7 linked regions of the Homo sapiens genome follow. The protein of the gene in region 5 interacts with the protein of the main gene of each other region in a pairwise test. Each region holds a gene or a part of one and is shown on either strand. Other genes may lie near its edges. The genes, in order: SEC22A, SLC38A7, LPAR3, MS4A13, EDA, CTXN3 and MAL.

What was found.
Region 1: the proteins of EDA (region 5) and SEC22A interact in binary tests that used the Homo sapiens proteins (3 or more experiments, as listed by UniProt).
Region 2: the proteins of EDA (region 5) and SLC38A7 interact in binary tests that used the Homo sapiens proteins (3 or more experiments, as listed by UniProt).
Region 3: the proteins of EDA (region 5) and LPAR3 interact in binary tests that used the Homo sapiens proteins (3 or more experiments, as listed by UniProt).
Region 4: the proteins of EDA (region 5) and MS4A13 interact in binary tests that used the Homo sapiens proteins (3 or more experiments, as listed by UniProt).
Region 6: the proteins of EDA (region 5) and CTXN3 interact in binary tests that used the Homo sapiens proteins (3 or more experiments, as listed by UniProt).
Region 7: the proteins of EDA (region 5) and MAL interact in binary tests that used the Homo sapiens proteins (3 or more experiments, as listed by UniProt).

The regions. Positions count from the first base shown.
Region 1 is NC_000003.12:123,267,943-123,271,289, reverse strand, and holds part of SEC22A (vesicle-trafficking protein SEC22a), read right to left. Parts: intron 1-3,347. UniProt on the Homo sapiens protein: May be involved in vesicle transport between the ER and the Golgi complex.
Region 2 is NC_000016.10:58,674,771-58,678,270, reverse strand, and holds part of SLC38A7 (sodium-coupled neutral amino acid transporter 7), read left to right. Parts: intron 1-846; coding exon 847-945; intron 946-1,924; coding exon 1,925-1,982; intron 1,983-2,149; coding exon of another isoform or gene 2,150-2,195; exon of another isoform or gene 2,196-2,216; coding exon 2,217-2,331; intron 2,332-2,547; coding exon of another isoform or gene 2,548-2,657; exon of another isoform or gene 2,658-2,737; intron 2,738-2,928; coding exon of another isoform or gene 2,929-2,957; exon of another isoform or gene 2,958-3,021; intron 3,022-3,500. UniProt on the Homo sapiens protein: Symporter that selectively cotransports sodium ions and amino acids, such as L-glutamine and L-asparagine from the lysosome into the cytoplasm and may participates in mTORC1 activation. The transport activity requires an acidic lysosomal lumen.
Region 3 is NC_000001.11:84,865,707-84,869,206, reverse strand, and holds part of LPAR3 (lysophosphatidic acid receptor 3), read left to right. Parts: intron 1-3,068; 5' UTR 3,069-3,086; coding exon 3,087-3,500. UniProt on the Homo sapiens protein: Receptor for lysophosphatidic acid (LPA), a mediator of diverse cellular activities. May play a role in the development of ovarian cancer. Seems to be coupled to the G(i)/G(o) and G(q) families of heteromeric G proteins.
Region 4 is NC_000011.10:60,539,392-60,543,221, reverse strand, and holds the end of MS4A13 (membrane-spanning 4-domains subfamily A member 13), read right to left. Parts: intron 704-3,830; coding exon 647-703; 3' UTR 501-646; downstream 1-500. UniProt on the Homo sapiens protein: May be involved in signal transduction as a component of a multimeric receptor complex.
Region 5 is NC_000023.11:69,955,113-69,958,612, reverse strand, and holds part of EDA (ectodysplasin-A), read right to left. Parts: intron 1,587-3,500; coding exon 1,481-1,586; intron 1-1,480. UniProt on the Homo sapiens protein: Cytokine which is involved in epithelial-mesenchymal signaling during morphogenesis of ectodermal organs. Functions as a ligand activating the DEATH-domain containing receptors EDAR and EDA2R. May also play a role in cell adhesion.
Region 6 is NC_000005.10:127,655,582-127,659,081, reverse strand, and holds the end of CTXN3 (cortexin-3), read right to left. Parts: intron 1,660-3,500; 5' UTR 1,561-1,659; coding exon 1,315-1,560; 3' UTR 452-1,314; downstream 1-451.
Region 7 is NC_000002.12:95,028,708-95,032,207, reverse strand, and holds part of MAL (myelin and lymphocyte protein), read right to left. Parts: intron 1-3,500. UniProt on the Homo sapiens protein: May be involved in vesicular trafficking from the Golgi apparatus to the cell membrane. Plays a role in the maintenance of the myelin sheath, and in axon-glia and glia-glia interactions.

The sequences.
Region 1 (3,347 bases), on a different chromosome or scaffold from region 5:
TTTTGTATCATATTTTAAATGGAAGTACAATGGAATGACTTCCTTGCAAACAGGCTGAGCAAATTCCCCATGGTGACAGGCAACTAAGAAGCATTCCCAGGGTCTGCGGGTGTTCCATTCTCACCCAGGAAAATACAAAAAAGCACATACAAGCTATTCTACAAAATGGACTCTTAATATAACCTGAGTCTGAGTATTAACAAAATCCACAACATTTTACTAGTCGCCCACTGAGTACAAGGAACTATGCTAGGTACAGCATCTGACTGAACATTTGAGGGAGAATTCATTCAACAAATATTTACTCAGGGCCTGCTACAAGTCAGGCATTGTTCTTCAGTTGTAAGTAAAACAAAGCCCTTGTTCATATAAATATTAAATTTTAATGGGGAAGAATTATAAATGTATTTTAAATATATAATATCAAACAGTTATGTCTTGAAAAAGAGAAAGCAGGAAAAAGGGATAGGGAGTAAGAATGATAGTGGGTGCTATTTTAGATGAAACGGTCAAGAAAGTACTCCCCCTCTCACCGCTCCTGCCCATCCTGGCATTCACCCTTTACTGCTTTATTTTTCTCCACAACATACTATAAACATACTTGAGAAATGTGCTTATTTTGTTTGTCATCCATAGGCTTTCAACAGAATCTATTTCATGAGGGGTGAGATTTTTTACTGTTATTTACTCATTTATCTCCAGTGCCCAGAACAGTGCCTGGGACATAGTAAGTGCTCAATGTGTTGAGTGAATAAACTGTTTTCTAGAAGATGTCTAAAATTCACAACCTGGTAAGTATAGGAACCACAAAGTCTAAGAGAGAGGCCCAGGTCTCTCTGAGAAACTGTGTCCAGGCTTCAGAATGGGAAGGACACACCAGTGTCTGTTATAATGCAGAAAGAATGTGGAAATGTTCTGTTAAATATGTTTAGTTCTTATGCAAATTTGGACTGTTTACTTAAAAAGAAGACTGCTATCCAAGCAAAATGAATTGGAAGTATTTATCAGTGATTTTCATCATATAAGACTGAAAAAATAGAAAAAAATAGCTTTTTCTTTCTAAACAATTTTAGAGTTAAAGATGCAAAAACAGTTTATTGTATACGCTTTGTTTACTGTATACTCTTCACCCTGTTCCCCGTTATCCTCTTATGTAATCATAGTATAATCATCAAACCAGGAAATGAACATTGATTCAATACTCTTAGCTAATCTACAGACTTTATTCAGATTTTGCCCATTGTCCCACTAGGGTCCTTTTTCTGGTCCAGAATCTAATCTGGGATTCTGTATTGCATTAATTGTCATGTATATTCCAATCTGTAACAGCTCCTCCATCTTTTTTTAAAAAAATTTTTGGCCAGGCATGGTGGCTCACACCTGTAATCCCAGCACTTTGGGAGGCCCAGGCAGGCGGATCACGAGGTCAGGAGATTGAGACCATCCTGGCTAACACAGTGAAACCCTGTCTCTACTAAAAATACAAAAAATTAGTCGGGTGTGGTGGCGGGCGCCTGTAGTCCCAGCTACTCGGGAAGCTGAGGCAGGAGAATGGCATGAACCTGGGAGGCGGAGGTTGCAGTGAGCCGAGATCACACCACTGCACTCCAGCCTGGGCAACAGAGCAAGACTCCATCTCAAAAAAAAAAAAAAAAAAAAAAAAATTCATGTCCTTGACAGTCTTGAAGAGTATTAATCAGTTATGTTGTAGGAATGTCCCTCAACTTGGGTGTGTCTGATGTTTTGTCAAGATTGAAATGAGGTTATACAATTTTGGCAAGAATATCAGAGGTGATACGCAATACATGTTATTACATATTAAATTAGATCACTTAATAAGGTGGTATCTATTCCCTTTGCAATTATTGTCTTGGGGGCAGGGAGTTGAGATTATGTGAATATCTTATCTCATCATACTTTTGCTCATTAATTTTAGTATCCATTAATGATTCTTGCCTGCAACAATGATTACTGTGGTGTTCGCTTAATGGTGATTTTATATTTCCATTTTTTATCTATATTTATTGCTTGGAATGCTACTGTAAAAATGAGCTAGCATTTCCAGTAATATATACACACACACACACACACACACACACACACACACACATATATTTAATTCAAGGTTTTCCAAGGCTTTTAAAATAATAGGTCTCTACCCCACATATTACTTATTAATTACAAAGAAGAAAAAGATATCTTTGCAATGGGGATCTGGTAGACACCATCTTAACCAAATGATCAAACTTATCACATTTCCTGACTGAAGCAATGAGAGATATTCAGCATATTATACTATACAGCACTGTTGCCAGAATATTTAACCTTAATATAATCACGAGTAACAGACTAATCCAGATTGTGGTACTTGCCTGAACTCTTAAAAAAGTCAATGTTAAGAAAGATAAAACCAAACTAAAATAGAACAACAACAAAAAGGCTGGGAGACTGTATCATAGATCAAAAGGTACACGACAATCAAATGAAATGCATAATCCTGGATCAGGAGAAATATAGCCACAGAAAACATTTTGGAGACAACAGAAATAATCTGAATAGGAATCATATATTAGATAATATTGTATCAATGTTAAATTCTTAGATGTGATATGAAGTCCTGGCTATGTAGACAGATGTCTGTATTCTTAGAAGATACATCATGAAGTATTTTAAGGTAAAAAATATCATGATGTCTGTAACTTACTTTAAAAACAACGGCTCAGGGACTTCTGTTTCTGGGAAGATGGAGTAGACACACTTTTCCCTATTTCTCCCACTAAGTACAAATAAAAACACTGGACATTATATGTAAAACAAGCATAAGAAGACTCTGAACTGTGGAGGAAAAGCAGACAAATAAAGAATCTTGAGATCCAAGAATGCCACAGTGGTAGGTTCTCTGAGTTTTCTTTTTTGCTTCATATATCCCAGACTTGGAGCTGAAGAAGCTGGCAACTAGAAATGCCAAGGCATGCATATCAAAACAAACAACAAAAAAGACCCTCAATAACATCTTGCTCTCTCTGGTAAAAGACCAGGAAAGAGGCACCTTAGCAAGACAGAAAACTTTTAAACAGTAACTATTATCCTCTAGCCAAACATCACACAAAAAACCCCTGTGACCCACCCATACCCACACCATCAAATGTTGAGAGCCTAGAACATTATAAGCAGATGTTTTAACCCTTCAGCATGGCTTCAGAAAAGGCAAGTAGAAGCCAGGACTTTCATTCCCACTAGATGGCAATGAATCCCTCCTCTACCCTCTTATTGTGATATCAGTGGAGAACACGTGGGACTCTGGACACCCACTTTCACTTGACAGTAACAAGATAATTCATTTCTCA
Region 2 (3,500 bases), on a different chromosome or scaffold from region 5:
GCTCCTGGGGAACCCTGCTCCTCCATGCCACCTCACCTTGGGGAGCAAGAGTAGGCAAGGCAGGGCAGACCGGGGCTTGCAGGGTTTCAGATAAGACCATCCTTTTCTGTCTCCATCATAGAAAAAGGATGCATCCATGAGAGATTCAGTTCTAAATGTCCTTTTGCATCCATGAGTAGTTCAGTTCTAAGTGCCCTTGTCAAAGAAGGAACAGGTGGTATCTGGGCGGTGAAGGCAGCCTCCTGGCATTCCCTGGGAGGAATTTGGGTCTTTGAGACTGTCAGCCTACCAGCATCTTACCTGCAGCTTGGCATGAAGGAAGGAGACTGGTTTCCTGTCTCGGTGTCTGAAAGGCTGTGGGATTCTAGGCTTCCCCGTCTGTAAGTGCAGGGGCCATGCTCCGCTCTCTCCAAGGCTCCCATAAATGTTGACACAAAAGTGTCTGTACTCTCAACCCTCTTACCTCTGGCATCTCTTAGTTCTCAAAGGCCAGGCTCAGAGGATGGTCTCCCACAGCCCCTGCCCGGGCTGGGCTGCTCTGATTCAAGTCCCAGGTGTGCTTTGGAGCTCTGCTCTCTGCATCGTCTCTGAGCCATGGAGCTGAACCAGCACTTCCTGATGGCCAGGAATGCTGATCAGGTCCCCTGTTGGCTGTCCAGCTCCTTCCTAGCTGTGGCAGGTTTCTCTGAAACTACTTCTCAGGCGTTTCCTGAGTCTGCTTGGCATAGTCTCCGGTTCATTCAGTGGACACTTGTGGTCGCTAGAGCTGAAGGTGGATGTCCCTAGGGGTGGAATCAGATAAGAGGCAGCTGGGGATGAGGACACTTAGTCTCTCCTTCCCGGCAGCTTCCTGAGCGTCGTGGGTACCTGGTACGTCACAGCCATCGTTATCATCAAGTACATCTGGCCAGATAAAGAGATGACCCCAGGGAACATCCTGACCAGGTGAGGGTGAGGGCCCTAGGAGACATGGGGAAGAAGCCACCACTTGGGCCCCAGCAGGTGCTGGGTCAGGAACCAGAAGGCCACACAGGTGCTCTTCTCAAGGCTCATGAGCTCATCAGGGCTGACTTGGTCATTGTAGGAAGGAGGAAAGAGCCCCTGCTCTGATGTTACTGGAAGGAAGAGCAAGAATCAGAGACAGGAGGCACTTTGCCACCTACATCCAACAGATGAGCCAGTGTGAGGCTAGGCCTTGGGTTGTGGAGGAACCTGAGGGTGGAATCCCAGGGTCGAATTGCCTGTGTTTCCAGCATCTGCTTATCTGTAATTTCTGTATCTTTGAGGGTGAATTTATTATTAAAAAAAAAGGGGGGGGGCCAGGCACAATGGCTCACGCCTGTAATCCCAGCACATTGGGAGGCCGAGGCGGGCGGATCATGAGGTCAGGAGATTGAGACCATCCTGGCTAACACGGTGAAACCCCGTCTCTACTTAAAAAATACAAAAAAATTAGCCGGGTGTGGTGGCAGGCGCCTGTAGTAGCAGCTACTCGGGAGGCTGAGGCAGGAGAATGGCGTGAACCTGGGAGGCAGAAGTTGCAGTGAGCCGAGATCGCGCCACTGCACTCCAGCCTGGGTGACAGAGCAAGACTCCATCTCAAAAAAATACAAAACAAAACAAAACAAAAAAAACAATTTCCTTCTTTTGAAAGGAACAAACCAGTAAAGCAAAAGCCCCAGTCCAGGAGCCAGGAATTCTGGATTTTGGCCCCAGGGGGGCTTTTCTGAACCTCCAGGCCCCATCCCAGAGGGCCCTGGGACATAAGGATGCCTCTTCTCCCTGTTCCCAGACTTCTGTGGGTTGAAGCTATGGAATCCCAGTTGCTGGAGACCATGGTGGGCTGACCGAAGAGTGAGGGCGTGGGGTGGGTTGTGGCTCTGAGGGGTTCCCAGGTGGCAGCACCATGTGTGTTTGTTCACAGGCCGGCTTCCTGGATGGCTGTGTTCAATGCCATGCCCACCATCTGCTTCGGATTTCAGGTGCCAGTGCCAGTTGCAAGGTCCCTGCTGTCCCCTTAGATCACCCCACCCTGGGATGGAACCCAGCAAGGAGGAGGAACCCAGGCAGAATGGAGGAAATCCTGGGGGGAAGGATGGAACAGGGGCCTCAGGACTTGCCCCTTGTTCCTGGGGTCTTTGTTCCCAAGGTACCTTCCTCTGGAAACTGGGGTTGAGGTCATTTCCCCACCATGACGGTGCCCTTCACCTGGACAGTGCCACGTCAGCAGTGTGCCCGTCTTCAACAGCATGCAGCAGCCTGAAGTGAAGACCTGGGGTGGAGTGGTGACAGCTGCCATGGTCATAGCCCTCGCTGTCTACATGGGGACAGGTGAGTGCTCCCCCCCCCCAAGACCTGGGACTAGAGTGCTCTCACTTCCACAGGAGTCCCTAGGTCCTGGGGCCTAGCTTTCCTGGGGACAGCCCTGCATTCCCAGCATGACTTGTATAGGCATTGGCTTGAACTTGGCCTGCCTGGAGCCTCCTCCTGCCAAGATGAGAGTGGTGTATTCATCCATTCATTCACCAGTTCTAACTTGGTGCCTAGGAAGTGCCAGGAACGGTTCTCAGCATGGGGGATGCCATGGAGAGAGACAGAACTGGTCTTGCCCTCATGGAGTTGACATTCTTGTTGGAGAGACAGTCATGCAGGAGTAACTGGGGAATCAGTAAGGAATTCCAGATGGTGGCAAGCATCCTGATGACAGTGAAATAGGGAAGGTGTGTTTTGTTTTATTCTATTTTATTTTGTTTTGAGAAAGGGTCTCAGAAACTGTCGCCCAGGCTGGAGTGCAGTGGCATGATGATAGCTCACTGCAACCTCAACCTGCTGAGGTCGAGTGATCCTCCTGCCTCAGCCTCCAGAGTAGCTGGGACTACAGCCATGTGCCATTGTGCCCAGCTAATTTTTTTTTTTTTTTTTTTCTAGCAGAGACAAGGTCTCACTATGTTGCCTAGCCTGGTCTTGAATTCCTGGGCTCAAGCAATTCTCCTGCCTCGGCCTCCCAAAGTGCTGGGGTTACAGGCATGAGCCACCAACCCAGCCTAAAATGGGGAAGGTATGAATGGGACTGGATGGGTGGCTTTGGGAGTGGTTCACAGAAGGTTCTTCTCAGAGAAGGCCCAAATGATGAGAAAGAGCCAGAAGAGGAGGAGCTGGGGAAGAAGGGTTCCAGGCAGAGGAACCACAAAACACCAAATCACTGAGGCAGGGCCAGGAAGAAAGTCTATGTGGCTGGAGTGGTGTGTGATGGGGGCAGGTGAAGGCAGTGAGGCCAGACAGGCACTGGCAGCCAGATCCTGTTGGGCCTCGAGGGCTGCTGGGAGTCATCGAGGAAGTGTTTTAAGCAGGGGGGTGGTTCGGGGAAAGGTGGCTCTGGCTGCCGTGTGGAGAGTGGTTGGGGTGAGGGAGCAAGTCTAGGAGACCCTGGAAGAAGGATCCCCTGAGTTCTTTCCACGGATAGACCGTAGGAGCTGCCTGGGCCAATACTGTTCTAGCCT
Region 3 (3,500 bases), on a different chromosome or scaffold from region 5:
CATTGAGGTGTTAGTGCTTGATATAATTAAAAATTCGACCACATGTAAGAAATAAAACTAAAATGTTAAGATCCTTCAAAATAAAATTAGGAAAATTTGAGTAGTATTTTTGTAGTGTCTTAATTCCAATGTCTTTGTGACATATTCATCTTTATATTTCTAATAAATTAGTCAAAGATAATATAACTTTTAAATTAGAAATGTTTCTCTTAGATGTATAGAGCATGAAACAAAGTAAAATATATACATTATTTTTAATTAGAAAAGACACATAATAATTGTATTATTAAATTTTCCCATGTGGTGTCTTAGTCTATTCCTGTTGCAATAATAAAAATACTTTAGGTAATTAATAAATAACAGAAATTTATTGCTCACTATTCTGGAAGCTAGGAGGTCCAAGATCAAAGCATCAGTAGATTTGGTGTCTGGTGAGGGCCTGGTCTCTGCTTCCAGAAGGGGGCAAATGCTGTGTCCTTGAATGGCAGTGTGGCAAAAAGGGTCTCACGAGTTCTCTCAGGCCTCTTCAATAAGGGCACTAATCCCATTCACTTCCCAAAGTCCCCACCTATTAATATCACTGCAGTTAGGGTTAGGTGTCAACATGAATTTTGGAGGCACACAAACATTCAGACCATAGCAAGTGATTCTCGGATTGTTTGTCTTGAATTTCTGTATACTTTCAACATGGTTGAAAGCTGTATTTCTCTTTAAATATTTAAATTGAGTATCACTAGATTAGCACCTTGTATTTAACTCTCATATGCTGCTGGTAGAATTAAAAATATGATCTCTCAGGCTGGGTGTGATGGCTCATGCTTGTAATCTCAGCACTTTGGGAGGCCAAGGTGGGCGGATCACCTGAGATCAGGAGTTCGAGACCATCCTGGCCAACATGGTGAAACCCCGTCTCTACTAAAAACACAAAAATTAGCCGGGCGTGCTGGCATGCGCCTGTGGTCCCAGCTACTCAGGAGGCTGAGACAGGAGAATCACTTGAACCCAGGAGGCAGAGGTTGCAGTGAGCCAAGATTGCACCACTGCACTCCAGCCTGGGCGACAGAGCAAGACTCCATCTTGGAAAAAAAAAAATGCTATCTCTCTTAAGTGGAGTTTCACAAGATGTATCAGAAACCCTTAAATAGATTTATATCCTTTACTTCAATTTGAAATCTATGGGTTATTCCTAAAGAAACAATTGGCTAGATATATAAAGATTAATGAACAAGAATGCAGCCTTGCTTATAAAAGTGAAATACAGGAAGCAACCCTAATGTCCAGTATTTAGGATTAGTTAAGTCAGGTGTGGCCTATTCATATAATAGAATATTGTGAAGCTATTAAAATTATACTACCTGTATTTTTAATTTGGGGAAATTATGATATAGTGTAAATATATGATATTATCATGAATTTATTTGATATTTACAGTTAAATATTGGTGACTGTCTGCCAAAGAGAGTAATTTTTATTTTGTCATTATGAAAATTGAGTCTTCCTTTCTTGTAATTGAAAGATACTGGAACCATTTGTCTCTTGAGACTACTCCCAGTTTTTTTTAAGCATATAAAATGATATTTACCTCCCATTTGCTATGGCCAAAAAGCAATATCTAATTCATGTAAAAGTATCATTATACCATTAAAATATAAATTAAAAAAAAGACTGAGATACATTTCTATTTTGTACTACTTAATAGTTATCTGGTCTTCTTGATTCTGGTTGTGGTATTAGATTTCAGAATTTTCAGGAACTTTAAAATCTGGGGGCTTTTACTGAGCTTTTACTGTCACAGCTCCCAGAGGGCTGCTCAGTCCCTCTGCCGACTGAATCTCTGGTTCTCCAGGGAATAAGCTGCAGCCTCATTCTCAGTGAGGGAGCAGATGGTCATTCTTCCAAGAAGCTAGAACCCTGACCCTAAGCCCAATCTTCTTCCGTAGGACCGTTCATGGCTGTGGCCAGACCACTGTGAGGCAGAACACTTGGTTTTCCCCACCACGTGTAGACAGATGGGCATCCGTGGGGCTTCTGCCCAGCCCTTCCTTGGCCAAGATCCCTCGCTTTTGGGATTCAAGAGATCTTTTACTGAGAGGATTAGTGTCTTCCCTGTCTGCCTGATATCCCAGTTTGGGGTCTTCTTTCAGACAAGTGTCTGAAGAACATGCCCTCACTTAATAGATATGTTCTCACATCCACATTGAGTTGGAGATCTGCCCCAATTCCAAATCTCAGTCTTGCCTGTGGAAGCCCGATCCTCCTCCACCTGCCGTGTTGAGGAATGCTGGAAAATCCAGTGAGCAGGTTCACATTGGTACAGTTTGGGTTAGGAGACTATAAGGAAGAAGTGAACAAAAGGTAAGGAAGGGAGATATTGGGACCAAAGTCTCCATCCCTGCATCATATACCTAATATGTGAATATCAGAGTTGTTTGTTGAAACCAAAAGATGGCAAAAGGAGGATCAGGAGTGGAATCAGAAGTCATAGAAAACTGGTCTCTTGGGGTATCTGTTTGGTTATGTGAATGGTAATTCAACTCCTATTATCTTGGGAAGAATGTACCTGAAATTACCAACCTGCCGTTGATTAATGAACATATCCATAAATAACTAATGAACTGGGAGCCAGGAGGAGGCATTAACATAATGTGTTGTCATTGTGTTACCAGTGCAGAGTGGATATTGCAGGGCTCAGCACATTTGCCCTGTTGATGCCTCCATGAGAATTCATTCATTCATTCAGCCAGCCAGCCAACCTACCAATAATTACCCACCATGAGGCAGACAGAGCAACTGAATCCTAGGGTTGTAATGGTGAACAAAATAGAGATACACCCTCCTAACCTGAGCGGCCTAGCCTGGGAAACAAACAATTAAAATGTGCGCTAAATGCTGTGGTAGGAGGTCAGGGGCTATGTCCTGGACCAAAGGACATTTGCACTGAGACCTGACACTTCAGGTCTTCAACTCCCTTGATGGGAGTTAGCCAGAACGGGCTTAGAAACAGCAATTGATGGCTTAGTGACTGATTTTACAAATGATATTTGTTTCTTCTTTAAATTTCTTTCTAGGATGTTCACTTCTCCACAATGAATGAGTGTCACTATGACAAGCACATGGACTTTTTTTATAATAGGAGCAACACTGATACTGTCGATGACTGGACAGGAACAAAGCTTGTGATTGTTTTGTGTGTTGGGACGTTTTTCTGCCTGTTTATTTTTTTTTCTAATTCTCTGGTCATCGCGGCAGTGATCAAAAACAGAAAATTTCATTTCCCCTTCTACTACCTGTTGGCTAATTTAGCTGCTGCCGATTTCTTCGCTGGAATTGCCTATGTATTCCTGATGTTTAACACAGGCCCAGTTTCAAAAACTTTGACTGTCAACCGCTGGTTTCTCCGTCAGGGGCTTCTGGACAGTAGCTTGACTGCTTCCCTCACCAACTTGCTGGTTATCGCCGTGGAGAGGCACATGTCAATCATGAGGATGCGGGTCCATAGC
Region 4 (3,830 bases), on a different chromosome or scaffold from region 5:
AGAAAATTCTCCTTATTGTGGACAGTCTGTCTGCTTTGAAAAGCAGTTGAACAGGTGATCCAAACAATGATAAGAAGAAAGAAGCAAGGGGAAAGAAAGATAAGAAAGATAGCAGATATGTTCAGGGCAGAAAGGAACTTTAAATAAGGAGAAGAGAAGTCAAAGAACAATGAAGGAAATATGAATTAGAGGCCTTTTGATTCATACTTTGATAGAAGCTAGTTAAAGTAGAAGAACTCAGACTGTAAAATGTGCTTTCTGCTTGTATGGACATAAGTATTTAAAGTTTTCCTGTGAATTATACGACATCATGGCCCAAGTCTTTATAGCCTTCACTCTAGAGATAATAATGAATCTTTTTTACAGTCTCTTACAAAAGCTTTATTATGGAGAGTTGACAGCTATTCAGCGTACCTAGATAACACATTCATCCTGTAATAATCTCATATTTAAATAGGGAAAAACTTTCCTTGCAGCCTAGAAAAATATAAGCAGAGACATTTTTGAATGAGGAGAAAAATTCACCTTGTTTGTATTTTATTTTGCACAAAATCTGTAGGCTTCGTAACTGCTTTGTTATACAGAGATATCATTAGGACCCACACCAGGCATCAGCAACAGCAAAATTCTCATATTTCTAGGGTTTTTAAGGAGTGCTCTCAGCTTCCTCAGTAACAGATGTAAGATCATTTTGTCTTCGAAACTGGAAAAAAAGTAACCTCTTACAAATCATATCATGTTTCTTAATATTATACAACTAATAAATAGATCTTTTTCTTAAAAAATACAGGTAATACTGATATTTATAGAGTGAAATCTTAAAGTATCCTATTTCTGTCCCATTCCTATTTCAACCTTATTTCTTTCTTCCTTTCTTTCTCTTTCTCTTTCTTTCTTTCTTCCCTTCCTCCCTTCCTCCCTTTCTTCTTTCTTTCTCTTTCTTTCTTTCCTTTTTCTTTCTTTCTTTCTCTTTTTCTTTCTCCTTCCTTCCTTCCTTTCTTTCTTTCCTTCCTCCCTTCCTCCCTTTCTTCCCTTTCTTCTTTCTTTCTCTCTCTCTCTTTTTCCTTCCTACATTCCTTCCTTCCTTGGGTTTTTTTTTTTTTTCAAGGTCTTGTTCTGTTTTCAAGGTCATGTCGCCCAGGCTGGAGTGCAGTGGTGCGATCTCGGCTCACTGCAACCACCTCTCTTTCAGGTTCAGACTCAAGAGATTCTCATGCCCCAGCCACCCGAGTAGTTAGGATTACAGGCCTGTGCCACCATGCCTGGCTAATTTTTTTGTATTTTTAGTAGAGACGGGGTTTCACCATGTTGACCAAGCTGATCTTGAACTCCTGGCCTCAAGTGATCCTCCTGCTTCAGACTCCCAAAGTGTTATGATTACAGGTGTGAGCCACCATGCCCAGCCTTCAACCTACTTTCTTAATTTCTGTTGGATCACTTGTATCTTTTGGTGTACCTTCAAACTTTTATAATAAAAATAACCATAGTCTTCTTGAACATAAATCTTAATAGATGCCAGCACCCTAGCCTCTCATGACATTTCTCAACCATTACCTATTCCTTCCCTTCAAGGTAATGGTCATTTTGACTTTTAGATAAGGTCAATTTTTTTTCTAGTTTCATGAACTAAGCTTCATCCCTAAACACTATAGGTTAGCTTTAGTTTTACCTGGTTTCAAACTTCATATGAATGGATTTTTTTACAAGTATGCATTCTTTTGAGTTTTTATACTCAACATTTTATTTGTAAGATCCATCCATGATGTTAAGTGCAGGTATAGTTGCTTTTAATCACCATGTCAAATTTGAATGAAGTAATACACCTCAACTTATTCATCACTCACCCACCTGTGTTGTTTCCACTTTGGGACTACTATGAATAATACTGCTCTCTATATATTCCTGGAAGTTTATCTTAATGCATAAGCGCAAACATTTCTGTTGGTTATATACCAAAGACTTAAATTACTGATCATAGGGTATGCACATTTTAATTTTTAGTAGGTAATGCCCAAAAGGTTTTAAAAATTGTTGCAATAACTTATATTTCAACTAGGAGTTTGAGAGATATTTCTTTTATCTACAATCTTTGCTATCAGTTGGCATTGTCAATAGTTTGAAATTCAGTCATTCCAGTAGGTACTTTAAAATATCTCTGTCATTTTAATGTTATTATTACAATGAATAGATTTATATCTGACATTTTATTATTTGTTTTATACACGTCTCATGTGTTTTCTTTTCCTTTCCTTTTTTTTTTTTTTTGTGAGATAGGGTTTTACTCTGTCACCCACACTGGGGTACGGTGGCCTGAATATGGCTCATTGCAGCCTTGACCTCCTGGGTTCCAAGTGATCCTCCCACCTCAGCTGCCTAAGTAGCTGGGACCACAGGCATGTGGCACTATGCATAGCTAGTGTTTTTATTTTTACTTTTTTGTAGAGATGAGGTCTCGTCATGTTGCCCAGGCTGGTCTTGAACTCCTGGGCTCATATGGTCTTCCCGAGTTGGCCTCCCAAAATGCTGGGAATATGGGTGTTAACCAACCAAGCCTGGCCATTGTGTTCTTTCTTTATTTTTTAAAAATTAAACATACTTTGTGTATGTTAATTCCCTTGTTTTTAAGCTATTATATTTTTAGCTTGCTTAATCACTAAATAAGCACCCTAATTTATCACAGTCTACTTCAGATGAATGCTAATTCAATTCCAGTAAAATACAGCAACTTTATTCCCATATAACTCATTCCCTTTCCTTTTCTTTGTGCTATTATTGTCATCTATTCTATCTATATATATTATGTAACTACCAATATGGTGTTATAATTACTGCTTTTATAATCTTATCTTTTAAAATTTAAGAGAAAAATTGAGAAACTGTCTATTGAAGAAGGGTTGGCAAGCTATGATACATGGACCAAATCTAGCCCACTCCCGTTTTTGCAAATAAAGTTTTGCTGGAACAAGCCATATCCATTCCTTTATGTATTGTCTATGAATACTTTCATGCTAAAAGGTGGAGCTGAGTAGTTATGACAGATGGAATTAATGTTACTAATAACACGACCTTAAATTAAGGTAATCATCCTGGATTACCTGGGTGAGCCCAATGCAATTAATGCTACTGTCTTTTAAATCAGTTAACAGAAGAAAACACAAAAGATGTATTTATACTGATTTTCATAACCACCTACATAATTACTTTTACTGGCACTTTTTTTATTTATTCATGTGCATTTGAGTTTCATCTGATGTCACTTCAGTCTAAAGAACTTCCTTTAGTGTTTCTCATGAGGAATTTCTGCTAGCAACACATTATTCATCTGTGTATGTCTGTATTTCACCTTCATTTTTGAGGGATAGTTTTAAAGGATAAAGAATTCCTGCCTGACTGTTTTTCCCCCTGCACTTTAATATCCCATTCCACTACCTTCAGGCCTCCATTGTTTTGGATGAGAACCCAGCTGTTTATATTATTGTGGTTCCCTTATATATGAAGAGTCTTGTTTTTATTTTTTTTTGCTGCTTTCAAGATTTTCTTTTTTATCAGTTTGACATGGAGGTGTCTAGGAGGATCTCTTTGTGTTTATTTTACTTGAAGATCCTTGAGCTTTTTGGATGTATTGAATGTTTTCCATGAAATTAGGGGAATTTGGGAGCCATTATTTCTTTAATTTTTTTTCTGGTACTCCCCATTTTTATGGGACTCCCATTATACATGTGATGGTATCTCAAAGGATTTTGAGGTTCTGTACAGTTTTCTTCATTTTCTTTTTTTCCTGTTCTTCGGACTGGGCAATATCTTTTTTGCTCTCTTTATGTCTGTTTATT
Region 5 (3,500 bases):
GGTCCAGTTCTCCATTCAAAGGCTCAATGCTGCTGCCACCTCCACTGACTAGAAAACCCTATCTTACTGCTCTGGCTCTTTTTTTTTTTTTTTTTGGTATTATTATGGGGTCCTTGTTCTGAGCTCTTTCTCAGATTTCAGCCAGTTATACTTCTTATTGCCCCTACTGACAAAGTCCTGGCTCCATCTCTTTAATAGCTTCCGCCCTCTAAAACTGCTTCCATCAGTGGCCCTTACTCACATCAACAAATGTCAGTTTAAAATTTTCATTTTCATCTGTATAAAGTCATATTGCTTTGTAACCCTCCAGACACATATTATTGGCAGATGTAGCCAGACACATGCTGTCTTTGAATCCAGATGCCTTTGCAGCAGCCCAGAGCTATGTATTCTACAAACCCCTGTGCCCAAAGGGGTAGCATTATGTCAATTGACAGAGTGATGCTGAAATATCAGAGCAATTCAAAGACCCTGCCCAGGAGCTAGCTCAACATTTTGTTATGCCCCACAGAATGCATTGCTAGTTAACTCAAAGCTATTACACCCAGAACAGGGATGGTTTCCATTGATACATCACTGCCTAGCTGAAGGGGCAGTCAACATCATCGACTTACATAACAATCACCAACAATGTTCCAGATAGTAGGCTAGATTCTAGGCTTATACAAAGAGAAATGAAATCTCTGCCCACAAGAAACTTATAAACTAGTTCTAGAAGGTCTAGTTCAGATTTGGGCATGGTAGTGGATACCAACATTGATAAAATTATCATTGGAATTAACACATCATGTAAGTGCTAGCAGGGTACAACACTGTCAATTCCAAGAATAGAACCAAATCCTCCTGTTGACCTTAATAGGTGTGGGACATCTCCGGGAGAGATGAGGCCCTTATAGAGGGTGATTTTGAGAGATACAAATGCTATCATGGCTCTCAGACATACTGAGAAAGGACTGAAGGTATCTGGAGTTGGAGGAGGGAGGATCCTTGTATAGTTAGTTCTATGTTAAAGGACTGATTGGTAGGTTAGGCTGCAGAAATAGTCTATGACCTTGGGTCTGTGGTGGACAGTATATAAGATGATGAAGCACACTTGAAAAGGTAGTGGTTTTTTTTTTTTGTTTTTTTTTTTTTGAGATGGAGTCTCGCACTGTCACCCAGGCTGGAGTGCAGTGGCACAGTCTCAGCTCACTGCAACCTCTACCTCCCAGTTTCAAGCGATTCTCCTGCCTTAGTCTCCCAAGCAGCTGGGACTAGGCCCGGCTAATTTTTTTTGTATTTTTAGTAGAGACAGGGTTTCACCATGTTGGCCAGGCTGGTTTTGAATTCCTCACCTCAAGTGATCTGCCCGCGTGGGCCTCCCAAAGTGCTAGGATTACAGGCGTGAGCCACCATGCCCTACCAAGAAGGTAGTTCTTAAAAGGATACTTTTACTAACAAATAATTCAGAAGTGATAAAGGATCAACTGAGTAGACTTACCATCTGCTCCTTCATTGCTTTTGCTTCTTTTATTGCGGCGAACACGCCTACTTTCTTCTTCAGAGTATGGCTTTTCATCAGGGAAGAAGAAATTCAATAGGGCCATCTGTAAAAATTACAAGTACATTAGTCAAAGGTTGACCCCACTCAGTCATAGCCAACATAAAAAACCAGCTTTCCATAGACAGTCTACCTGTACCTTAAGTTTGATGTGTCTAAAGCCTGAGCCCATCTTCCCCTCCACTGTACAAACCATTTTATTTTTGATACCATTATTATTCCAATCATGTAGGCATGACATTTTGGTTAATTTCTGAATCCCATTTCTTCCACCCTGAATATCTAATAAATAATCCATCAGGTCCCATTTCTTCATATATTTCTGGGATTCAGAGAGCCTAGCCACAAATTTCTAACTTCCCACACATACTGAGGATGCTCACTCAGAATTTGAGTTGAACAGAAAATTGAACAGAAAACCTTGAATTTGGCTGGGAGCAGTGGCTCACGCCTGTAATCCCAGCACTTTGGGAGGCCGAGGTGGGCGGATCACCTGAGGTCAGGAGTTCGAAACCAGCCTGACCAACATGGTGAAACCCCATCTCTACTAAAAATACAAAATTAGCCGGGTGTGGTGGTGGGGGGTGCCTATAATCCCAGCTACTGGGGAGGCTGAGGTAGGAGAATCGCCTGAACCTGGGAGGCAGAGGTTGCAGTGAGCTGAGGTCGCACCACTGCACTCCAGCCTGGGCAACAAGAGCAAAACTCTGTAAAAAAAAAAAAAAAAAAAGAAGAAAGAAAGAGAAAGAGAAAGAGAAAGAGAAAGAAAGAAAGAAAGAAAGAAAGAAAGAAAGAAAGAAAACCTTGAATTTGCTGCTCCCCATTGGACTTCATTATTACACATTCATGATTTTGCCACATTGCTATTTATGATGTAATTTTGGTTTGTTCCCAAAATGCTGTGCATCCAATACTGAGGTACTATTTGTCAATGCTCTTCTGGGAGTTAGTCATGACAAAGTACACAATTATTTTCTCCTCTTCTGAGATTCCTATAGCACTTGTGGTCTATAAGACTAATTTTGGTACCTGGTCCTCTACTGTCTTATAATGGTCTCTGATAATAATACAATATGTTTCATATGTGAATGGGTCTGGCTTCACTAATAATCATAGCTTAAATATATATTTGCTGAATTGAATCATAATCTTTTAGCATGAGTGCTTTACTGTGGTAAAACCATGTGCTTGAGGTAAACAGTAAACACGGTAGTAGGACTGAGTGATTCTAATGCCAACTCTGCCACTTACTAGCTGTATAACCTGGAACAAGTTACTTAAACTTTAGTTTCCTCATCAGTAAGTAGGGATAATAATAGTACTTTGCAGATAAAACAGTTGCAGAGTTAGAACAGTACTTAGCATGTAGCATGCACTTAATAAATGTTTGCTATTACTATTATTATTAAACTTAATCTTCAAAATAGAATGGTTAATTTGGGGCCTAAAATAGAACAAATGAATCTGCATTTTCATTCTATTATCAGTTCAAAAAATAAAAAATTCCAGAGTCCTCATGTCTGCTCCATCTCTGATTAAGTGGAAAAAAAATGGGTTGGACCCAAGAAAGCCCCAATATTCCACACAAATTTTCTTCAAAATTCTGTGATTTACCCAATATCCTTAAGGTGTAGGATTAGCATCTTGAAGGATACATGAATGTATTAAATATAAAATTAATAAATCAATGTGTAGGTAATTTCCATCTTGTCAACAGGACTGCATTTCAAAATAAACTGCCATTTTTGTCAAAAATGGTTGAATATCAATCAACAATTTCACATGGTTCAACTGAGTAGTATTTTTGAGTCACTTGATTGGAATGTAAAAATGCATTTTCTCATACAATCAACATAATAAAGTTTGGCTAGTTCTCCTGATAAGCCCACAGAAAGTTACTTAACTCACAATATAAATAAGCTAAGTACTAATAATAGTATAAAACTAAACTGCTGTTTAC
Region 6 (3,500 bases), on a different chromosome or scaffold from region 5:
AAATTAATGAGGACACACATGACACAGTACATTTGAAAGAAAAAGAAAATCTTATAATTAATAGGTTAAAGAAGTGTGCTTTTTTTAATCAAAAAAGGTAATGACTAGCTGAGGAGAAAACTAGAAGACATAGATTATAAATACAGCCTAACGGGGTTGGTTTAGGCTGAGTTATCTGCAGGGTTGGTTTAGACACAAGCTTTTCCTTCCAACAAAAGTTGGAATAAGAGGTATTCACATCTCCCTTTTTGGTGGTCTTAAAAACTATCGGTTTTGTCTGTGCAGGACAATTTATAGGAGCTCTTCTTGAAATGGGAGAGGGATGAATTAGATGAGCTTTCATGCTGTTAACTCTTTTCTCCTCTCTTGGAAAAATGTTAAGCCTCAGCACTTAATACCAGGTAGCACCCTCAGTGCATTAGTTCTGGTGAAATAAGAGAGGAAGCATTTCTGTTTCTTGAAAAGTTTTATTTGGTGACTATATACAATCATAAATACACATTCCTCTGAAGACTATAAAAGTCTTCTCCTCTAAACAATTAACTTTTCATTGAAAAAAAACTTTAAGCTGCACTTGCAACCTATTTTTTAAATCATTTGTGTAAAGTGTAAATTCAAGTAATGTATAGCTACCTCTACACATGTTATTAATATGAATACATATAATGTAGTTGGCTTGGTAAATAGTTTTTAAAACTTTGTAGCCTTTGAATTAAGTTTTACTTGAAAAACAAAACGCTATTCTCACTCACATTTACCAAGGACAGAATCATCTCTTTTAAGCTTTTCCATTGCTTCCCAAAGCTCCCTGCTTTGGGAGAAAACAAGAAACTACTTTGGGTCCATTCAGCACAATCTTCCTCATTCTGCTCAGGACCCAGATAGGTGCCCATGAAATAAAACAAATATAGACATAATTAGAGCAAGGAAATCTCTTCCTGGCCTTGTCACCAGATTCATATGAGATCCTTTCTAGTCTTTTATTCTTTAGTCAGATCAGGTGGTGTTTTGTTTGATGGCAAATCTATGTCAGTATTAACGCTCTTGGTTTCACAATCACACAATTTTAAGAGTACTCATTCATTGAGCAAACATAAAAATTTAAACCTTCTTATGTTGGATTAGTTATATAAGTGTCCATTTCCAACATCCTCAAATGTCTTTAACCCAACTGCATATTTATGGAATAATGGATTATGGTCCTGGGACCAAATATTGTTTAAATTTGATTTGTTGAGAACACTAAATAAAGGGAATCCTCACCAAGACACAAAGCACTTCATCTCCTCAGGAGGAGATCCCACACCATCCCTCCTAAGCAAGGGCATGGTCGAACTGCCCTTTCTCCAGGCCTTCAAGTCCATCAGCCCAGGTAGAGGTTGGCATGCTTCGATATGGATCCAAAAGAATCCGGAAGCACCGGACAATGAGAATGCCCAAGAAAATAAACAACAGAATCACAAAAACAAATGTCATTTTCTGCTCCAGGGACATGCTAGAATCTGCTGATTCGTTCCCAAGGGGCACTAGGGATGAGGGGATGGGCTGTCCTCCATCCATGGTCCAGGGAAGCCAGAGCACAGGATATCCTGGTTTTCTTTTCTTCCATCATCAATCTGCGGAGGTCATGGTGGCTGCACTCTGGAGAGGCTGAGTTATCTGCAGGGAAAAAGGAAGGGAAAGGAATACCTATAAAATAGCAGCCTTATTTTTTTAGGTTCACAGTCATATTTTTCAGAGAGAAAAAGAAATCTGTAAACCAGCTTTCTTTTTCACCAGAGATGCTCAATTCTGTATAATTATCGGGAAAGATATTTTACTCTTGCATGAAATTACCAGATTGTTCTCAGAAGAGCCACCTGGGGCCAGGAGGGATGGGCAGGGAATACGACTATAATATAGAAGATGAGAAATGTGCACAGTAATATTGACCTCAGGGTGTACTGTCAACTTGACATCTGAACCCAGCCTCCCCTGCCAAGTCTCCTCCTGCTCTGCTCCACTAATATTACTCTCACATTGTTCTTACGATAGCGCCATTGAGGGAGCCTCAGCTATGTGTCAGCACAGTGGCTAAACTTGAAACATGTTAGCCACTTTACTGCAAGCTTCACGAAAGCAGGGATCTCTTTAGCCCCAGTGCAAGGAAACTGAGGCTAGAAAAGGTGCTTAAAATAGAAACCTTCTCCAGGAGCATTGGGTTCTGGGCTCCGGGCTCCACTCTACTGCAAAACGGGTGTGGGACCTTGGAGAGGTCACTAAGCTGTAAAAATGCAAGTAGCAATGCCTGCATCTTTCATGGTGCTGTAATAAGGATGAAGAGCTGTGAAAACCCTTTGAAAAGTATACAAAAAAGAAAAACAAACAAAGCCAAGTGTTGCTTCACCTAAGACACAACTAAGGGAGCTATGCTGCTTCTCCTTTCCTTTCTACTGCCTGAGCCAAGGGAGAACGGAGGTATCTCAGTCTCCCAAACTATCAAGTTACTGCTGCTTTTTCTTTTTTCCTCAGAAAACAAAGACCAGGTTCAATACTTGACCCTGGGAAGCACCTAGAGAATTAAGCCAAGAGAAAGGAATTGATCGATGCATATTTTCAAAAGGACAGTTTTCCTTAGAGTGGCTTCCTACCATTTAAGACTATTCAGTAGAGAGGAAGAGAAGGAAAAGGACAAGCTAACACTATTTTAATTTTACTGGTGGAAAAACTTAGATATGTAGATATTACTGTATAAATATACAAGTGTATATTACCGTATAAATATACAAGTATATACATGACAAGTATACACAGAGGTCGTTAAAAGCTTCAGATACTGAACGAAATCTACTTAAATCACATCGTAAATAAAAGTATATACATTAGACACTACTACTATATAGAAAATTAAATGATATTTATTATGAATTTATTTATAATAAAAATTACAAAGCACAGTAATTAGCTACGGAAATTAACACGGACACAAAATAAATTTTGCTCAATGAAAATAACCAAATAAAAATAGAATATGTGACCTAAAGCATCAATACAATGTTCCTTCAGTTAACTTATAATCATTGCCTTCAAGTACAGCATTAGTAATCATAGCATAACAGTTTGCATTATATTGACACTTCAAAGTTTGTAAAATTACAGTTTAAAAAACAATTTATAAGGGGGATCCCAGCCAGGATCTGGGAGGAAGGAGTTACCAGTCGGGTAATGCATCATTTTTGCAGCTCTATCACTTTGAATTTTTTTAAAGGCTATAACAGTTGCAAAACTCATTTATAATTCATGTTTGTTTGGAAGTAAGATTGGGATAAAAATTTGACCGCATTTTAAAAAAATAAGCTCTTTAGGAATTTAGAGGATATTAATGCACTGGGTTTTGTTTTGGTTTGCTTGTTTCTAAGCACCCTCCTAGCCTTGGGTATTAATTCCTTGTGGGCCAGGAAGGGAGGGGCAGGAAGGGAGGCCAGAGCCTCCAATGCAGGTCTCCTCAGCACATCAGACCA
Region 7 (3,500 bases), on a different chromosome or scaffold from region 5:
TTCAGCCCTTGTCCCTGGCCGACCTGAGTGTGAGCGCTGCTGGCAGCAGCATCGTGGGGCTTCCTACTCACTTCTGAAAGCACTGGGACAGAAAGGGTGCCTTTGCACCAGTTCTGGCATTGCCCCATCCCTGTGAGGTGGGGGAGTGACTTATGAAAAGCTAAAAGGCAATCTTTTAAAATATAGCTCAGGTGTGATGACACATGTCTGACAATCCTGTGGAGATGAGCCCCATCATCACACTTAGCAGTTTCCAGGGAGCAGCTCAAAGTTACTGAGTCCTCACCAAAGCCAGCCTCTGGTCTTGAAAAACCAGAAAAGTCACTTCTCCACCAAACCCCTGTGAAATCTCTGTCTAGAACACTTCTCCTCCCTTTAGAGAGGAAGAGAGGAGAAAACACGGAAGATCAGGCAGTAGCCCTCTCTAAATAGCTACAGAGAAGGGACAGAGCCAGGAGCCAGTGGACACAGTCAGAGAAGGCCAACTCAGCCACCATCCCATTCTGGCCAAGCGGGGCCTGCCCCACTCCCTGGTGCCTGTAGGAGAGGCTCCTAGCTAGCACAGCAGGGAACTTTCTCCAGAACAGAGGAGGTCCCTGGTCTGACTTGTGAGAACCTCAGAGCACCTGGCTGCTTGCCCCAGCCTCTCCCTGAGAACTGTTCCCACTATTCTATCCCCCATAAAAATATCAAGAGGGTGGCCTGGCCTCGAGATGTCCGCTCCAAGTCTCAGCCAGTCAGTGGAGGGTGTGCAGTGCAATGCGGGTTCTTCAACCTGCCCTGGACCTCGTGACTCAGAACCTGCAGGGTGTGTTTTTGACAAGGAGACCCAGAGGAGGTGTGAGCTTCCCAGTGGTCCTGAGCTGTCCCTTCATTCCTGTTGGGGGAGAGAAGGGACCAAGCCTTGCCCAGAGCTGCCAGGTGGGCAGGGCTGCCTACTCAGGATCCCAGTGTGCCTTCTAGTGCAAGCAAAATCTCGTGTGGCTGATTAGGTGAAAGGAGAAGCCTGGGCATGATCTGCTCACTGCCAGAAGTGCTCACTGGACCCTGGAGACCCGGTGACCCAGGCAAGTTGCTCCCTGTCTGAGCCTCAGTTCCCTGCCAGCTCTGAAAGTGAGGTTTCTGTCATTCTACGTCTCTGGTCTCCTAGGAGTTCCCATGCCACCTTCTCAGTGCAGCCACAGCTTGGACCACCTAATGCGAAACTGCCTCGCTGGCCCATGGCCCAGTCCCGGCTCTGTCGGGCTGGCTATTCCCCAGCCAGGTAGAAATCTAGCAGAAGTCCCCAGACCTCTCTGGTCACTCTTAATAACAGTCCAGTCACTTTGGGTCACAGAAAAGGTGTCATTTTAGTCATTACTCTGTCCAGTTCACTGTAACTGTCAAAACTGCAAACTGATTGCGGGTGTCTCCCCACCCCAACCCCAACCCGTGATGTGACTGCACTTCTGTTCGTGTTTCTGAGGCACAGAGGAGGAAGGGCATGCCCCTGGAGGGCTGGGCGGCATTCCTCACACCCTCACTCACAACCCTGCCTCCTTTGTGGCCTGGGGAGGAGGGGGCTGAGTAGATGATCTCACAACCCTCTTCAGGCACTTCCTTCACAAGTCCTGAATGGGTAGGGGGTCTCTCCTGGCACTCTGTGGGAGACCTCGCATCTGGGGGCCCCAGCTGAGACAGAAAGCCTTCCCTGTGAACCTTTCATTCCCTGAATGGTGGCCCAGTGTCAAGGAAGTCCCTGGCTTAGAATGGAGACGGAGACAGAGACAGAGAGTGGCTCCAAAAGGAAAAGTTCCTCACTGGGTGGGACTTTTGCAGGGGAGCAGACGAGAAGCAAAGCCCTGGGTTTTGTTGGAGGAGGGGAGAGCATTGGCTATTTCACCCTTGGCCTATATGGGGCTGCACTGATGACCACACCACCTGCAATAGGGGCACAGCCTCTGTGGCTCTGGAGGTATTTGGAAAGGCAGTCTCACTTCCTAGTTGGGCCTGCCTTCCTCTTCCTGTGAGGACTCTGCAGCTTTCAGAGGTCAGGAGGTCTGGGATAGGGGTGCTGGGCCAAGGAGAGGTTGCTATGCCCCACCCTGAGCTGCCACCCTCACTTGCTCCAGTGGGCAGTCCCCTCACCATGGAAGTGGCGCTCCACCCGGATCAGCTTGGACATCTGCGCCTCCCAGGCTGTTGGGAGGTCAGGCATGGGAATCTGAACTATGAGTCATCAACAACTCAGTGGACTACAGATTTAAAAAATAATCAAGCATTTCACACCCATTGGACTAGCAGAAAATTATAAAGTCTGACGCTACCAAGTGATGAGGAACAATGGCGACTTTCATGTGCTGCTGGTAGGGGCCGGGGAAGGTCCAGGTTTAGCCTGAAGCTTAAACAATCAGGAGGACCATCTTTATAAGAGAATACAAAATTAGGCAGAGTCTTGGAAGGGGCTTGAGTAAGTAGGGGTCTTGAACTTAATTAAACATCAGCTTCCCAGTAAATCTGCTCCTGGGGTGTGTAAATTGGAATTACTCTTTTGGACGGCAATGTGATAACACCTGGGAAAATGACAATGTGCATATCCCCTGTGACCCAACAAGTCACATCCTCCAAGTGTCTCTGGGAGACATTTCCAACAGGTAACTACAGAGGCAAATATGAGAATGTTCTTAGCAATGCTGTCTGCAATAGCTAAAGGCAGCAAATTGGAACTATCCAAAGTGTCTATTAACAGAAGACTGGGTAAACAAAGTCAACATGTATAAATCTCAGAACATAATGTTGCCTGGAAAGCATGTTGCAGAAGGATACGTACTGTATGCTGGCATTTTCATAAAGTGCGAAAACATGTAAAACAATGCCATGTGTAGTTCATATGTGTGCAGTAAAAGTCTAACCTGTGCTTGGAAGTGAACACCACATTCAGCCTACAGGTGGCCCTGAGGACGGAGGGAGAGAGAGAATAAGATAACAGAAGGATGTCTAGGAGGCTTAGATGCCATCTGAAAGCTTCATTTCCTTAATACATAACAGCAAACAAGGCAAAATATTAAGATTTGACAAAGTTGGGCAATAATTATGTAGGTGTCTGTTAAAGTATTGTATATGTTCTTCTGTGGCATTTGAAATATTTCTATTTTTTGTTTTTTAAACTTGAGGTGAAATTCACATATCATCAAACCAATCATTTTAAGTTGACAGTTCAGTGGCATTTAGTACATTCATGGTGTTGTGCACCCACCAACTCAATCTAATTCCAAAGCATTTTCATTACCCCCAAAAAGAAACCACATAGCGATTAAACAATTGCTCCCCTTGGTCCCTGGCAAACCACCAGGGTTTGTGTTCTGTCTCTATGGATTTATCTATTCCAGTATTTTATATAAACGGAATCATACACTATATGACATTTTGTGCCTTGTGTCTTTTGCTTAGCATAGAGTTTTCAAGGTTTATCAACTTTGTAGCACGTATCAGTACTTCATTCCTTTCTATGGTCAGGTAGT